Linked DNA regions of Homo sapiens: region 1 is linked to region 2. The links come from fine-mapping of genetic effects on plasma protein levels. Region 2 holds a variant in brackets. A gene starts in the other region. All regions are shown on their forward strands.

Region 1 (2,913 bases), not on the chromosome of region 2:
GAGGGCTGCTCTGAGAGGTATTAGGCCAACACAGAAAATCTAAAGACTAAGTAGTCAGCCTGGCAAAGTGAAGTTGAGGAGCAAGAATTCTGTTCCAGGCAGAGGGAACAGCATTTGCAAAATTCTAGAGGTGAACAAAGCAAGATGCCTCTGGGACATTGCAAATCATCCAGGCTTCAGAGATTGGCAGGCGCCCAACCACAGGGGTGCATGTAGGCCACAGAGAAGAGTGTGGGCTTTATCTGGAGGGCAATGGGGAGCCATGGGAGAGTTTAGAGCATGGGAAAGACTATGTTACAGGTCTGGAAGCTGAGGCCCAGAGAGGCTAAGGAATTTAGCTGATGTCATACAGCTTATGAATGGCAGAGACAGAAATCCGACTTGAGTGGGCTGCAGACAGATTGAGGGTGTGAAATTTGGGGGATGGGGACTGGGGAGGAGGTGAGGCTGATGCCCAGGGCTGAAGCTCAGGCAGGGGGCACAGTTGGAGACCCAGCTGGAGAGGCAATGCTATAGGGAGAGAGAATGAAGCTGGTGCAAGCCTGGAGGCCAACCTGGCGGTGCGGACTTGGGACCACTGACCCCCACCAGCCCCACCCTGACCCTGGCACTTGACTCTCCCTCCAAATCAAGTCCAGGAGGGCTCTGAGGATATATGGACTCAGACCTGAGTCCGGATAAAAGAGCCAGCTACGGAGAGAAAGGGCTTTCCAGGCAGGAGGCCCAGCCCATGCAAAGGCCCTGGGGCAGGATCCTGCCTGGTGTGTTGGAGGAACAGCAAGGAGATCTGTGTGGCTGGAGCAGAGTGAGGGATGGTGACAGGGGGTCAGGAATTTGGGTTTTAAGCACTGATCTCATTGTAGGGGGGCGTGGCTTGAACAAGTCTGGGTCACTCTTGGAGTCTCAGACAAGGGTAACATTGAACCTTCTACAGTGTGTTGCTAGGAACCTCCAGAAGCTGATGCTGGTAGCGTCTTCGCACAGTGAGGGCTGAATCTGCACTGCTGGGGGCCGGCAGCCCTTTTGAAGCATCCCTGGGCCTCCTTGGGTCCAAAGATACCCTGAGCCTTCAAGAAGTTATCTCAAAGCTTGCCCGGGTACCGGCAAATCACAGACCTAGGAATGATCCATTGGCCACAGGCCCAGGCAGCTGGCAGCTCCTGGGACAGAATGTAGCAGGGCGATGTCACAGAAGCTGGGGGCATCTAGAACCCTGGTGACTCCTGGTCTCCATGTCATCTGCCAGAAAGGCCACCTGCGCCAGCACCTCCTGAGACCGGCCTTCAAAGACACGACGCATGCCGCTCTGCCGTCCGGAGCACTTAATGCCTAGAGCCAGCAGGGTCCCAGTGGCCGCGTCACTGCCTCTGAGCCACGCGGTCATTCCAACTCAACTGCCCTCGCGTCCTGGCCACAGGCCCCCTGGGAGACCCCGGAGATGCCCAAAGGCCTCATGCCTGCCGCCTCCAGTGGGACCTAGCAGCACACAGACAGCGAAGCGGGTGACCATGGGGTGGCCACGGCCGGGCCGAGCCCTCGTGGCAGTCAAAGCCTTGCTGGTCTTGTCGCTGCTCCAGGTGCCCGCGCAGGCAGTGGTACGGGCCGTGCTGGAAGACAACTCGAGCTCGGTGGACTTTGCGGATCTGCCGGCGCTGTTCGGCGTCCCCCTGGCCCCCGAGGGCATACGGGGCTACCTGATGGAGGTCAAGCCAGCCAACGCGTGCCATCCCATCGAGGCCCCGCGACTGGGCAACCGCTCTCTGGGCGCCATCGTGCTGATCCGCCGCTACGACTGCACCTTCGACCTCAAGGTGCTGAACGCCCAGCGCGCCGGCTTCGAGGCGGCCATCGTGCACAACGTCCACTCCGACGACCTCGTGAGCATGACCCACGTCTACGAGGACTTGAGGGGCCAGATCGCCATCCCCTCAGTGTTCGTGAGCGAGGCCGCCTCGCAGGACCTGCGGGTCATCCTGGGCTGCAACAAGTCGGCCCACGCGCTGCTCCTGCCCGACGACCCACCGTGCCACGACCTGGGCTGTCACCCCGTGCTGACCGTGTCCTGGGTGCTGGGCTGTACCCTGGCCCTGGTCGTATCAGCCTTCTTTGTCCTGAACCACCTGTGGCTCTGGGCCCAGGCCTGCTGCAGCCACAGACGGCCGGTGAAGACGTCTACCTGCCAGAAGGCCCAGGTCCGCACCTTCACGTGGCACAACGACCTGTGTGCCATCTGCCTGGATGAGTATGAGGAGGGCGACCAACTCAAGATCCTGCCCTGCTCCCACACCTACCACTGCAAATGCATTGACCCCTGGTTCTCCCAAGCCCCCCGGCGCTCCTGCCCCGTGTGCAAACAGTCGGTGGCCGCCACAGAAGACAGCTTTGACTCCACCACCTACAGCTTCAGGGACGAGGACCCCTCCCTACCGGGCCACCGGCCCCCCATCTGGGCCATTCAAGTCCAGCTACGCTCCCGGAGGCTGGAGCTGCTGGGCCGCGCCAGTCCCCACTGCCACTGCAGCACCACGTCCCTGGAGGCAGAGTATACCACTGTCTCCTCAGCCCCTCCTGAGGCCCCTGGTCAGTAAAGATCTAGGGCAGGGAGGGGGGTGCAATGAGGAATGTTTCTGGTCTGAAAAGAATAAAGTGGGTTTGAAAGCGGATTCTCAGCCTCGCTGCTGTTGGGCCACCCGCCTCTGACTGGGGTTGGGGGACACCCATCCCCATCAAGCCTAAGGCCAATCCCCGTTTCTGCGGGCGGGAGAGCGAGGGGTGGTGAGGGCTGGGGGGCCTTTTTGGGGCGGCTGTGACCGTGGTGCCGGAGTGGCTTTGAGACGGGTCGTCTGTGCTTTGGTTCCAGTCCCGGGCACACGGGTCACTCATCCTGGATGGCCTTATTCTTCATTCACATTT
Region 2 (2,913 bases):
TAGAACTACCCTCACTTGGCCTTGGTGATAGTGATTTGGGGAGGGGGAGATCAATAAATTTTTAGAAAGTAATGTCAGATAGATATACCTATCTTATATATCTTTTGTTACATTCGTTTCTAAGTACCACATAGTTTCTGCTAATGTTGCAAATCATATTTCTAAAAAATTATGGTTTTGAATTAATTCTCATGGTTGAATATTATGTAGCAGTAAAACTATTGAACTGCAGCCATGTGCATCAACAGTAATAAGTCTAGGAGCATAATCTTGAGTGAATAAAGCAAGTCCCAAATGAATGACTTCATTTGTATAAAGCTTAAAAACAAAACTGAAAAATGTGTTGGTTAGAGATGCACAGGTATGTAATAAACCAATATGGAAAAGGAGATAATAAAATAAAATTAAAAATCATGGTTAATTCTCATGGAGGAGAAGGTGAGAGAATGAATACAGAAGGGGGAAGTATATGGGTGAATGGAATGGTATTGGACAGTTTTGATTCTTATATTAGTGGTGGGTTCATGGGTGCTGGTTTTATTATTATTTTTCATTATATATATATGTCAAATGTAGTATTTTGTATTATTTGATATATTAAAAAGATAATAAGGGAAAAACAGATACATAAGTAGAAATAAGGGCAAGATATCCTCAGGTTTCTAGCTTGGGTTACGGGATCAGTGATGATATCAAATAAATAGAGACAACTAGAGGTTTATTCAGGAACAATGATGAGCTAAGGTTCTTGAAGCACATCTAAACAGATGGATATGCAAGCCTGCAGCTTGTGGGGGAAAATCTAGGCTACATATGCAGATTTGTAAGTCATAAATATACAGTTGTCTTTCAAACCAAAAAATGGATAAAATTGCCCCGGAAGAATTAAAAACAACAACAACAAAAGTGAAAAGAAAGTAATCCTGGGAAGCACCAGCATTGAAGTGTCAGGAGACAGAGAAGTCCATAAAGAGAAGGAAGGGGTCAAAAGATAGGAGGAAAAGTGAGTGGCATCAGGGAGGAAGCCAAGGAGGTAAAGTGTTATGAAGGGAGGGGTGATTATCAGTGTTAGATACACCAGGCCATTTACTACGGTGAGGTCTGGAGTTAGGAGGTTTGTGCTGACCTTAGCGAACTCTGTTTCAGAGCTGTGGGGACAGAAGCCAACTGAAGTGGGGAGAGGGGTCTGGGGAGCCAGACAGCGGGTACTGTGGAGGGGGTAGAGGAATCTTTGTAGAAATATGAGTGTTCTGGGGTGAATAGTGCCCTCCCAAAATTCAAGTTCTTTCTCCTGGAACCTCAGTATAGGACTCTATTCAAAAATAGGATCTTTGCAAATGTAATTGGGTTAAAATCAGGAATGAAGACTGGATTAGGATGGGTTCAAATCCAATGACTGCTGAACTTATAAAATGAGAAAAATTTGGACACAGACACACTGAGAGAACACAATGTGATAAGAGGCAGAGACTGGAGTAGTGCATCCATAAGCCAAGCCATTGCTGACAACCACCTGAGGCTAAGAATGACATGGAACAGATGCTTCCCTAGAGCCTTTAGATGGCCCTGCCAACACTTCAACTTAGGCTTCTAGGCT[A/G]TAGGACTGTGAAATAATAAAATTTATGTTGTTTAAAGTTACCCCATTTGGCATACTTTGTTATAGCAGCCCCAGGAAACAAATATAATGAATGATAACTAGTGTGTGATTAGGTAAAGAGAGGGCTCCACTTTTTATAGGATGGATGAGACTTAGTACATTTGCAGAACAAGAGAAAGTGGCAGTGTTGAAAGGTGCGGACTTTAAGAGGTGATTGGATCTTGAAGGCTCTGCCATCATGAATGGATTAATACCTTCGTGGGTTAGTGGATTAATGGGTTAATTAATGGGTTATTATGAGGGTGGAACTGATGATTTCATAAGAAGAGGAAGAGAAACCTGAGCAGATACATTAGGAGAGCAGTAAAGGATAAAGATAAGGGAGAAATAGGGAATGCTTGGTGGAGCACAATCCTGGCAGTCCCAAGAGCCATGAGCTCAGGGGCCCAGGCAGAGTTCATCGGTTTTAAAATGAAAACAGTGTACTCTGTGACTGGAAGAAAAAAAGCAGGATGGGGTGAGGTGGTAGTTAGATTGTAGGTAAGAGAGCAGGAAGTAAGGAAGTGCATCCTTGATGACTTCATTTTTCTTAGAGATAAGTTCTTCTGCTGAGGATGAGGGTAAGGGAGGCAGTTGAGTTGGAAGTAGTAGTGGAAGTTTGGAATAGTTGTTCAAGACCAGAAGGCTGACCAGAGACTACCTATAATTGACAGTTGGCATCCAGGTCTCAGCTGAGTTTGGAAACCATTGATTTGTATTAAAGATGCACTACACTGTTCTGAGATGTTTCCAGACAGCGCTCAGATTCCTGAGGTTTACAGCAGGAAAAGTGGCTCCTAGAGTTGGGATTTTATAAGATGGATGCGATGGAGGGATGTTGGTACAAGGAAGAAGAGAAGAGGATGTTGGTGAGACAATGAGCTCATGACCAGCAGTGCACTCCAGCCTGGGTAGAAAGGAAGAGGTAGAGGGCGGAAGGACATGAAAGACTTTATGGTGACAGTGACAAGAGCAGCCATGAGGTCAGCTAGAAACATACTTTTAATCCATGTGTTTTTGACAAGGTATGGCCATTGTCATCTGTGAACATTTAATATCCCATACTGTACTCAGAACTAAAGTACAATAGAAAATAATAAGTGCTGATGAGGATGTGGAGAAATTGGAACTCTTATGCATTATTGGTAGGAATGGAAATTGGTACAGCCATTGCATGAAACAGTTTGGTGGTATCTCAAAAAGTTAAACATACAATTAACTATAATATAATACAGCAATTCTACTTCTGTGTATATACTCAAAAGATTGGAAAGCGG

Which allele goes with the higher level. Positions count from the first base shown, and alleles are read on the strand shown. Strength reflects both the effect of a copy and how common the allele is.
For the plasma level of the protein whose gene starts at base 1,224 in region 1, allele A in region 2 goes with a lower level than allele G (weak association).

What was found. A credible set is the group of variants that fine-mapping cannot tell apart. PIP is the posterior inclusion probability: the model's chance that the variant is causal. Protein levels are from antibody-based Olink assays in UK Biobank. Linkage for the fine-mapping came from a reference panel and not from the study's own genotypes, which makes the PIPs less certain.
Region 1: ZNRF4 starts here. The variant in region 2 is the best candidate, but not a certain one, in a credible set for the plasma level of the ZNRF4 protein (UK Biobank, PIP 0.70).

What each region holds. Positions count from the first base shown.
Region 1 is chr19:5,454,194-5,457,106 of GRCh38, forward strand. It overlaps ZNRF4 (zinc and ring finger 4), which reads left to right and starts at 1,224. Exons shown (of 1, transcript NM_181710.4): 1 at 1,224-2,663. The coding sequence starts at 1,299. The coding sequence ends at 2,588.
Region 2 is chr1:171,958,714-171,961,626 of GRCh38, forward strand. The region is part of intron 2 of DNM3 (dynamin 3); the gene reads left to right. Among named protein-coding and RNA genes, the nearest start is that of DNM3-IT1, 96 kb to the left of the region's middle. The variant A/G (reference allele first, on the strand shown) is at 1,598.